Linked DNA regions of Homo sapiens. The protein of the gene in region 1 purifies or fractionates together with the protein of each later gene. This does not show direct contact. Each region holds a gene or a part of one and is shown on either strand. Other genes may lie near its edges.

Region 1 (3,750 bases):
GACAGTGACCTAATGTGAATGAATAAAATATATTTCTTTTCTTTTTTTTTTGTTTTTGAGACGGAGTCTCGCTCTTTCACCCAGGCCGGACTGCAGTGGCGCTATCTCGGCTCACTGCAAGCTCCTCCTCCCGGGTTCATGCCATTCTTCTGCCTCAGCCTCCTGAGTAGCTGGGATTACAGGCCCCCGCCACCGCGCCTGGCTAATTTTTTGTATTTTTAGTAGAGACGGGGTTTCACCTTGTTAGCCAAGATGGTCTCGATCTCCTGACCTCCTGATCTGCCCACCTTGGCCTCCCAAAGTGCTGGGATTATAGGCATGAGCCACCGCACCCGGCCAATAAAATATATTTCTGTAGTTGAATTGAAAATAGATATATCTCTATTGCTGAATTCTAATAATCTTATTCACTCTTTAAATTGTACATACAGGAAAATTACCAGAGTTCTTTTGAACTTGCTTTCTCAAAATTCATATAAAATTCTCAAAATTCATATAAGCTATCCAAGTAACACTATTAAAGTCTTAAGTACAATAATCTTATAAAGCACCTTGTTTCAATATATCTCCCAAGTTAAGAAGAAAAGCCAATATATGGCTTCTCTTTTACTATTTTACAAGGCAGGGTTTTATTTGTATATGTTGGTTGTTTCAAGCCTTTTCACGTAATAGTGGTTCTATAATCAATGTAGGCAAGATTGACAGTAAGATGTGTAAGTATGGATCAGCAGCCATGTTGAGACTCAGGCCCTTTAAGGATGCAAGAGAGATCCAGTTAAGTTTTCATTCCTCAGGTTGGATAAAAACTAAACATACATACATTGGAGGGAAACAAACACCAACATTATGATGGCTTTGTTGACCACTGTGGTGTTTAGCTCTATTTTAAGACTTTTCTACATGTAGCCCTCTCAACTCAAGGTGCAGCAAATCACTTCCTTGTTAATAATGTGTGTGTGGATCTTATCTTGGCTGTGTCTGTTTTGTAACCAATGGTCCAAAGCCTCAAGGCCACTGCCAGCACACTGCCACATGCACTTCGTTGTCCTGTTAACCCTTAAAGAACTCAGATTACCAACGCTACTACCCAGATTCATAAATTACTTGTTGTCATATGTTGCCTTTGATGTCTTTTCTGAAGTGTAATTTTTTTCTGTCTGGAATCTAGAAGATACTGATCTGAAAAAATTAGTTGATAATTTCCTAAGAGTTATTTCAACAGATTTTAATATTTTTACTTCAATGTGACTGAGTCAAAGTCATTTACACTGCACAAACATTAAACATGTTTCCATCATTATTTCTTCTCAGGATGGTAAAACCCTCTCTCTTCATTTTCACATCTAGGGGACTACCCATTGCACCGTCTTGGCACTCGTGGGAGTGAAAAATCTGTTCAGGAACTCCCTGCAGTCAGTATTCATCATGAAATGGGTATTCAGGATGATCGCGCCACCTGCCAAAACAATTCCCCCACAGAAAAAAGTTCACTCAAAAATTGCACAGCTGTATGTTTCAATAGCATCCTTTGAGAATTTCACTGACCACTACCCCTCTCTCCTATTCATTCCTCTGCTGTTTCTTACCTACTTTCCTCTTCTGTTTTCCCTCAAGCCAGCACCTTTTCCTGAAGCTCTGGACAGCCTCCTGAATGTGAGTGTGTTGAGGGAAGGTTGGTGGCCACCTTATCAACATTTTACTCAGAACAGAATCCCCAGTGGTGAATCATGTCTTAGGCATGTCATGTGCACATGCCTCTTCCCTACTCCTTCCCCCTTTCTGTTCCCTTGACGCTGGCTGCCTCCTTCTCCAATCCACTACATGGGCATTTCTCTTCAAAACTCTTATTACCAGTGTCACCCTCTGCTGATTAGCATTTTTTTCTTCTTTTTTTTACAGATGGAATCTCACTCTGTCACTCAGGTTGGAGTGCAGTGGCATGATCATAGCTCACTGCAGCCTCAAACTCCTGGGCTCCCAAGCAAGCCTCCTGCCTCAGCCTCCCAAGTAGCAGGGATTATAGGTATGTGCCACCACGGTTGCCCAAGCTGAACTCCTGGGCTGAAGCAGTCGCCCTGTCTCGGCCTCCCAAAGTGCTGGGACTATAGGTGTGAGCCACCACACCCAGTCTCATTAGCATTTTTACTTGCCCCTCTCACTAGACCTCCTGCGTGTTGAGAGTTTGAGATCTAGAAAGGTGATGAGTAGCAAAATAAGTTTGCTGGATGATTATGACGATGATGATGGCAGTGAATTTAGCTCTTAAATAACAATGATGAAATGGTCTGTAAAATGTCTGGAATGTGTGTGTTCCTGATTTAGTTTTCTGCATGTACTGTAAATTAAAATGGAAAATATTAAGATTTTCAAATGTTAAAAATCAACTTGATAAAAGCTGAAAAAAATCATGGTCCAATATCTCTAAATGATACAGTATTTGTGATTAATGGGGCCTAATTCTTGTTCCACCTTGCTGATTTTTCTAGTTATTTCCTGGTAAGAGTTATTTTTTTTTCCCCGAAGTTGCTAGAATTGCTTTTAAATATGTCAGATGTCAAACTGAATAATGTCACCAACTGTCTGTAAAACAATTAGTACATTGGTGGATTGATTATACTGTTTTTGTTTGTTTGTTTTTTGTTTTGTTTTGAGACAGGGCCTTGCTCTGTCTACCAGGCTGGAGCGTAGCCTTAGCTCACTCAAAGTCTGGGGTCCAAGTGATCCTCCCACCTCAGCGTCCTAAGTAGCTAGTACTACAGGTGCATGCCACCATGATGGCTTATTTTTAAATTTTTTGTAGAGATAGGGTCTTGCTATGTTGTCCAGGCTGGTGTCGAACTCCTAGCATCAAGTGATTCTCCTATCTTAGCCTCCCAGAGTGCTGGAATTACAGATGTGAGACACTGCACCTGGTTTCTCTTCTTAACTTAATGATATATTATTGATTCAATAGAAGTCATTTATCTTCAAGAGCTATTAATTAACCTATAACTGTTAGTTCTAGGAAAGTGTTATTTATGTGTTTATGTTTACTCTTTTGTTCTTGAGGTTGGGTGGTGGTGCCTTTTGATGTCAAACAATTTTCCCCCTGAAAAATTTCCATTAGGAAGTTGTTTTATTAATTCAGAAATTCAATATTAATCCAGTCACTGTACTTTCTGACCCATGAAAAACAGTAGGATCAGTAAAGTAAGTGTCCAAACTATATGAATCATCTTAGCATTTTCTGAATGTTCACTTAAAGATTCAAGATGAAGATGAATATTCAGGTGATTTGAAGAACTGGAAACATTAATAGAGAATGATTAAGAAGAAAAAAATGCATGTGTGTGTATATGAGTATATATATGTATATGTGTGTGTATATCTATACACACATATATAGCAAATATATTCTTTTTTTTTTTTTTTTTTTGAGATGGAGTTTTGCTCTTGTTGCCCAGGCTGGAGTGCAATGGCATGATCTCGGCTCACTGCAACCTCTGCCTCCTGGGTTCAGGCAATTCTCCTGCCTCAGCCTCCTGAGTAGCTGGAATTACAGGCAACTGCCACTACACCCAGCTAATTTTTGTATTTTTAGTAGAGACGGGGTTTCTCCATGTTGGCCAGGCTGATCTCTAACTCCCGACCTAAGGTGATCCGCCCACCTTAGCCTCCCAAAGTATTGGCGTGAGCCACCACGCCTGGCCAAAACTATATTCTTTTTTAAAGGGCCTGTAATATTTAGAGAATAAAGAGCTACTTCAGTTG
Region 2 (3,750 bases), on another chromosome or scaffold:
ATGAGATAGGTGGCAATTTTGTTTTTAATTTACATTAAACACGCACTAATATAAAAAAATTAGTTTGCAAGAGTTTCCAAAACTTAGCTATCTCTTTCATAGGTCTGAACTATAAAATTTGAAGTTTTAGGTATAATTAAAATGATATAATTCGGCCTGGTGCAGTGGCTCACGCCTGTAATCCCAGCATTTTGGGAGGCTGAGGCAGGTGGATCACCTGAGGTCGGGAGTTCAAGACCAGCCTGACCAACATGGAGAAACCTGTCTCTACTAAAAATACAAAATTAGCTGGGCGTGGTGGCGCATGCCTGTAATCCCGGCTACTCGGGAGGCTGAGGCAGGAGAATCGCTTGAACCCGGGAGGCGGAGGTTGCGGTGAGCCGAGATCACGCTCCAGCCTAGGCAACAAAAGCAAAACTCCGTCTCCAAAAATAAATAATAAATAAAAAATGATATAATTGTACCCGTTCTGTTCTTCAGGTCTCAAGTGGACTTAACTTTCCCTTAAACCATCTCTACCTGAAGTTTCCTCTTGGTTTATAGATAAACAATCTTCACCAGGCAGGGGACACCAGGCTATGGAGTGGATTTCATCATCATGGCCTCGAAGCCTATGAATAACTTCTCCTTTCTTACTGATGTCAATTATCACCACTATGCCATCCTTGTAGCTAAAAAACAAGAGTTAGAAATATTACTAAAAAAATGAAGACAGAACAGAGTCTCTAGTAAACATTTTGGCTTGGAGTTACCATTGGCGCATTCCTTAAAGTTAGGTGCATTTGGGGTGGCGGAGGAGGGAAGAGGACAAAAAATAATTTTGCTTTTTCCTTTTTTTAAAGTGCTCACCTTATGCCTCCTGGTTTTGTTAAAACCCTTCTCTCTATGATCAAACTCTTGGCACTAGGTAATACTATGTATGTTGCCTGGTACAAAACTCACAGTGGACCATGATTTTGTTCTAAGGGAATTTTCATAGTTTTTGCAAGGGTGCAGCAACTCTTCTTTTTTCCTTCTCTGTTGCCCAGGCTGGAGTGCAGTGGCACAATCACCACTTACTGCAGCCTTGACTTCCCAGGCTCAAGCAATCCTCCCACCTCAGCCTGGGACTGAGTAGCTGGGACTAAAGGTACATGCCATGCCCAGCTAATTTTTGTATTTTTTTGTAGAGATGAGGTTTCACCATGTTGCTCATGGCTGGTCTCAAACTCCTGGGCTCAAGCAATCTACCTGCGTTGGCCTCCTAAAGTGATGGGATTATAGGCATCAGCCACCACACCCGGCCAACTCTTCTAACTAGAGATAATTTTGTCCTAGTGCACTGGAAAATAATCTCTTTCTTTATAAGTGATACTACTTTTTAAACTGTGAACTTAACAAAAGTTGCAGAATTCTACACTCTAGACCTGCATATTCCAAGGCTGTCATTTTATGAATTCAAAAGAAACTGAGAAATTCTAATAGCTTTTTAAAAATGAATGACTTCAGATACATAAAAAAAGTAATCTACTACCCTGCCTAAGAAAAATAATTACCAATAGAGCTGAAGTCCTCTGTACATTCCACTTCAATCAAACCTCTCTCCTTGCCAGATCTCTTCTCCTTTTCTTCCTCTACCCAGAGGTCAAACTCTATTTGTGAATTGTGTTATATCATTCCTAGCCTTTCTTTGTATATATTCCTAAATAAGATATAGATTTTGCATATTTTAAAACTGCACATAAATGCTATCATCTATTTTCCTGCAGCTTGTTTTTTTCACTCATTCTGTTTGTAATTCATCCATGTTGATACACGTAACTCTAGTTCCTGGCCAGTCATTACACTATTGTATTAGTACTGCACTGTGTGAATATTTCAAAGTTTATTCATTTTCCTTTTGAAGGGCTTCCACTTTTTTACAACAAAAAAATGCTATTAATGTTCATGTACACATCTAAGACAATTTCAGGTTTGATGACTAGTAATGGAACTGCCAGGATGTTAAGATATATGCATTTTTATTAGAAAGTACAAAACTGCATTATACAAAGTGGCTGTACCTATTCACACTTCCTACACATTACAGCATTCGACAGGGAAGAACACCAGCACAGCTTTATTTATTTTTTTTTTTTAAAAGAAACACTAGAGTATGTCAACCTTTGAAGACCCGGACTTTGAAAACTGCCAAGTTATGCAACCTAATCACCAACAGATCAAGCTATTTAGAAATCTGAATCAAGCTTTCTGGGAATAATACTATTCTGAAGATCCTCCCCTGACTCCTGCCTACCACCTTTCTGTTCATCCTCTCTATCAACCCTACTACAACACTGCTCCCACTTCAAGAGACTGCCGATCCAGTCCCCTTCCATTTTCACTATCACTCACCCACACCTGTCTTTCCATACATCCCCCTACCCAATGCAGCACAGATTTCATGATCCATCACTATCATTGACTTTTTTTTTTGAGATAGAGTCTTGCTCTGTCGCTCAGGCTGGAGTGCAGTGGTGCAATCTCATCTCACTGCAACCTCCACTGCCCAGGTTCAAGCGATTCTCCTGCCTCACCCTCCTGAGTAGCTGGGCTTACAGGTGTGCGCCACCAAGTCTGGCTAATTTTTGTTTGTTTGTTTTTTTGAGACAGAGTTTCGCTCTTGTTGCCCAGGCTGGGGTGCAATGGCTCAATCCTGGCTCACCACAACCTCTACCTCCTGGGTTCAAGTGATCCTCCTGCCTCAGCCTCCCTAGTAGCTGGGATTACAGGCATGCGCCACCATGCCTGGCTAATTTTGTGTTTTTAATAGAGACGGGGTTTCTCCATGCTGGTCTTGAACTCCCAACCACAGGTGATTTGCCCACCTCGGCCTCTCAAAGTGCTGGGATTACAGGCGTGCACCACTGCACCTGGCCTGATTTTTTATTTTTAGTAGAGATGGGGCTTCACCATGTTGGCCGGGCTGGTCTTGAACTCCTGACCTCAGGTGATCCACCCGCCTCGGCCTCCCAAAGTGTTGGGATTACAGGTGTGAGCCACTGCGCCCAGCCTTATCATCAACTTTTAAAAATACCCGTACGCCCCGTCTCCTTCTCCCTCTCCCTCAAGAGTACTTACTCCACAAAGCCCCAAACCTGGCTGAATCCAACCATCTCCTTTCTCAAACAGTTTGGGTTTACTTTAAATTTATGGCCACGATTCTTTGTTTGCCACTCAACAGTGAACACTGGGCCTATAATTTTCCTTAGTACATTCGTTTTCCTATTCTCTTTGACCATTTTCATACCTTCTTTGCATATCCAGTTTCAACCCCATGATGAACTTGACTCTACCACTCTGACTTATGCCTCAATGAGAAAATCAGAAATACCAGAATAGAACACCTTTTTCTTCCAAGCACATCTACAAATCTACCTGCACCTATTTCTATATTCCCAGCTGTTCTTTCTTCTTGTCATCTGAATCCAATCCCCTCTTGACTTTTCAGCAATACCCCTGCATTTATCATAGTTTACTCCTGCAACAAGCTCTTCCTCTTTTCAAGCCTTACTTTCATCAGCATAAAAACAGGTCCCTGGTATTTTCCATTTAATACTCCCTTGACCCCATCTATCCCCTCTGGCTTCATGTATATGCACATTTTTACAACAAACTTTGTGAAAGAGTTGTTGTCTCTTTGTGTATCTCTATTGCCTTAGCCCCCAGTCTTTCAAATCCACTCCAATCAGAATTTCTCCTTCAACATTCTAGGGAAATTGCTTAAGTCTT
Region 3 (3,750 bases), on another chromosome or scaffold:
GCTGGGGCGCCCACCCACCCCCACTCACAAAGGCCAGGCGGAACCCTCTGCTCCCCGGCCCACCATGGGGGAGAAGCTCCTGCTGTCCTAGTTTGGGTGCTCGGAAGAGCTCACTGCCATCTGTGGCCTGGGCACCGCGGGCCATGTGTGGAGACCCCGTTCCTCAGGGACAGCGAGGAGGGGAACAGGGCCTGGCCTCGCCGGCTCACGCGGCCCACAGCCTGGCCTGGGAGCTATAAATAGCAGCCGCAGCGTGGAGTTACCGCCCTGCCCACTCTCCTACGCATGAGTCAGCCTGCCCCGGCCTGAGCTGGTGCCCGGAGGAGACAGGGAGCCGGCCCGACGCCCTGCCCCACGCTGGTGGGTCACTCAGGAGACGAAGGCAGGCAGGCGGACTGGGAAGGGGCAGGGCTGCCGTCTGAGTGCTTGGGTGCCCAGCAGCCCCGTGTAGGTGGGCGCCCTGCCCATGTGTTCCCAGCAACCCTACAGGCGGGCAACAGTGACGTCACTCACAGATGGGGGAACCGATGCTTGAGAAGGCACTTCCCTGCAGGCAGCCATGTAGAGCAGAAGCTGGGATTTGTCTGCCCTCAGGGCTGTCTCCATCTCCTGCTGAGGGCACCCCCAGATGAGGGTCAGGGGCCGGGCCATGCTCTGAGGTGCTCCCGCAGGGCTGGGGTCAGGGTGGGAGGGAGGTGCACGCCAGGAGCACTCAGGCCGGGCCATGGATGCCAGGCTGAGAAGCTGGACCTTGGCCTGGGAGAAGGGAGCCATGGGTGGCGTTAGAGCAGGGGAGGCCCATGTTGCAGTTGGAGCATTGAGTGGCAGAGTGGAAGGAGGGCTGGAGGAAGGGGTCTGGAGGCCAGGAGGGGGAGTGGGGTCAAATCAGGGAGAAATAGAGCTCCTTGAGCCCCAAAGCCGCTTGAACCTCAGTGCCCCAGCCTCAGTGGCAACAGGAGAGGGGACTGAGTGGTCTTGGAGGCAGTGCCAAGTCTCCGCAGAGGCAGATGGGCCCACCTCATCCAGGGCCATGGAAATGGTGGGTCATGGAGAACCCCAGGAGCTGAGGGCCCAAGGGGTTCACCTGCTCACAGGCCTGGTGATGGGGAGCTCACCACCTTCCAGACCAGCCTCTCACCCACTGATGGCTCTGACTCTGGAGAGACCCCTGTGGGTCCCAGAGTTGGCCTCTCCACCAAGGGGCGCCTTCCTCTGACAGCCTTGCGGCCTGGGACTGTCCCGCACCCACCCCTGAGAGCACCTTCTGGCCTGGTCACTAGACCCCAAAGTCCAGTCTCCTCTGGGATCTGCCCGATGAGGCCAAAAGGAACCTCGGCCTCCCGGTCTCCAAAATGGAGGCGGAACCATGGTCTCTTGTGGACACACAGACGCATCAGAAAAGCCAGTGCTCCCCTAAGACACCTCCTGTTGGGGGAACACAAACATTTTCCTAACCGAAAACGGCAAACCCATCCGCTGCAGAGCAGCGCCAGCCCCCTTTGCTCACCCCCCACCTCCCTAGGCCTGACTGCCATGGGCTGCCTCCGCCTCCACAAAACCAGCCCTACAGAGCGCTGAGTCCGCTTCTGCCCCCATCCCGCCCCTGCCCAGGCCCCTGGGATGGGTGGGCCTCCAGGTGCACCCCATTGACCTGAACCCTCCCGCCTCTGCCCGCTTCTAAACCTGTTCATTGATTGTTGATTATCGACTTACTCATTTCACAACGCACCCCTCTGATTCCCCGCCCTGCGTGTGACCGGGCCCCAGCCGGCCTCAGGGGTCCCGTTCTGCACCCCCTTTATCCGCATTTCTGCCAAAGCCCTCCACCCCCGGCTGGACTCTGCTCCTCCCAAGCCGGGCTCCTGGCCCCCACTCGGGGTTCCCCGGGAAGCGGCCCCAGCTCCCACCCCGAGGGAGGGCGCGCGCAGGTGGCTACGTGGCAGGGCGGGGGTCCCGGATCCTGGCGACCTCTCCCACCCCGGGCGCGGGCAGGGGTCCCGCGTGGGGCGGCGGTGACCTTGGCCGGGCGGCGCGCCGGCCCCGTGGGCGCGGGTCCCCGGGGCGGGGCGGGGCGGGGCGGGGCGGGGCGGAGCGCGGGGCCCGGCGGGCGGGGACGGCGCGGGCGCGACTGCGGCGGCTCGGGCGGGCGGGGGGCGGCGGCGCCAGCGGACACCGGAGCGGGCAGGAGCAGCGGCCGCGGCGCCGCAGGGACCAGCGGGCCCAGGTAGGCGGCCCGGGGCGGGGAGGGGGTCCCTGCGCAGCCCCCAGCCGGCCGTCCTCCCCGCCGCGCGTCCCTCCTTTGTCCCGGCCCCAGCCTCCCGGGCCTTGGGGCCGGGCCCTTCCCCGCGTGGCTCCGGGGCCCCTCGCCGGGCGTCCCCCGTCCCTTCCCGCCGGGCCCGGCCGGCCCCTCCGCGCTCACCTTGGACAGCTCCCGGCCGCCTCCCCTCCCCCACCCGGAGGGCGCCCCCCTGCCGAGCCCGCCCCACCGAGGCCCACCCCGCCGCCCCTCTCCGCATTGGTCCCCTCGGGCAGGGCCTCCTCCCTCCTGCAGCCGCCTTCTTCGCCCTCCGCCCCGCTGCCCAGCCAAGCCCCTCCCTCCGCGCCCCCTCCCCGGGGTGGGCTCCTCCTCTCCACCACTGAGGTCCTCCTGAGTCAAGGGTCGCCCCTGGGCTGGCCCCGCACTGTGCCTCTGCGCCCTCGGGCCCCCTAGAGCAGGCCCTTTCTCCATCAAACCCCTCACCGGCCAGGCGGCCCTGGGTCAGACCCCCGCCCCACCCTTGGTCAGGCGTGACCCCCGCTAGACCCCTGGGTCGCGGCTCTCTCTGCTTTCCTGACCCTGAGCTTTGCTTTGACACCCCCGCCCCCACCAACCACGCCGTGCCCGGCCGGGAGCCGGGCTTCAGGGACCCAGGGCTGGGGTAGATTGGCCCTGCCTGGACGTCTGGGGGTGGGCTGCCCCGCACAGGCGGGAAACCCCAGGAGTCTAGCCAAGCAGGGTGGGCTTCCAGCCCCGCTGTGCGCCTCCACCCCCCTGCTCTGTGACCTTGAGCCAGCCCCTCCTGCTCCTGCCTCGGTGCCCACGACCCCCTCCCTCCACCCGCACCCCCCAGGCGGTGGAGGTGGGAAGTGGCGTGGGCTTCGGGGCTGTTGAGTGCAAGCGCCTTTCTGGTCAGGGATTCCAGACCCAGCGGGGAGGACAGTACTGCTCATGGGGGCTGGAGCTTCAGTGCCCGCAGCAAGGCAAAGGCTGGATCTGGGTCCACAGAACCCATGGCCATTAGGACCCCAGGCCGGTCTTGGTGGCGTCTTTCTGCACAGCAGCGTGCCCGCCTCTCAGGGCGCCCACCCAGGAAAGGGCAGGGTCTGCAGCACAGGCCGCCTCCCCCCCACCACCAGCACCCCCAGCCTCCTCCGAATGCCGAGAAATTACTATGCATGTAGTCCACAAACCCGGCAGCCAATCACATGAGTTGGCATTGCCGAGGCGCCCAGAAGTTTGCCTGGCTCATCACAACTGGGGACTGTGTCAGCTGGCGCTTTCATCAGCCTCTTTTCTTTTCCTGGCAAATCTGTTACCCTTGATAATCCAGAAGGTGCCTTTGCAACCAACAGGCACAGCCAAGTGCCCTGCCCACCGGCCCCAAGCCCTTGTGACTGTGATCACAATTGTGATCGGGGTCTCCGCTGTACAGGGCACTGCCTAGGGCCTTTCTCCACCTTGTCACCTTACTTGCCCCAACAGTGGCTCGC

What was found.
Region 2: the proteins of AKR1D1 (region 1) and GEMIN5 purify together in Homo sapiens (affinity purification with mass spectrometry; 3 studies listed by BioGRID and IntAct, with this or other methods). This does not show direct contact.
Region 3: the proteins of AKR1D1 (region 1) and DIRAS1 purify together in Homo sapiens (affinity purification with mass spectrometry; 3 studies listed by BioGRID and IntAct, with this or other methods). This does not show direct contact.

The regions. Positions count from the first base shown.
Region 1 is NC_000007.14:138,114,326-138,118,075, reverse strand, and holds part of AKR1D1 (aldo-keto reductase family 1 member D1), read right to left. Parts: intron 1,457-3,750; coding exon 1,414-1,456; 3' UTR 1-1,413.
Region 2 is NC_000005.10:154,931,580-154,935,329, forward strand, and holds part of GEMIN5 (gem-associated protein 5), read right to left. Parts: intron 672-3,750; coding exon 520-671; intron 1-519. UniProt on the Homo sapiens protein: The SMN complex catalyzes the assembly of small nuclear ribonucleoproteins (snRNPs), the building blocks of the spliceosome, and thereby plays an important role in the splicing of cellular pre-mRNAs.
Region 3 is NC_000019.10:2,719,778-2,723,527, reverse strand, and holds the start of DIRAS1 (GTP-binding protein Di-Ras1), read left to right. Parts: upstream 1-2,155; 5' UTR 2,156-2,224; intron 2,225-3,750. UniProt on the Homo sapiens protein: Displays low GTPase activity and exists predominantly in the GTP-bound form.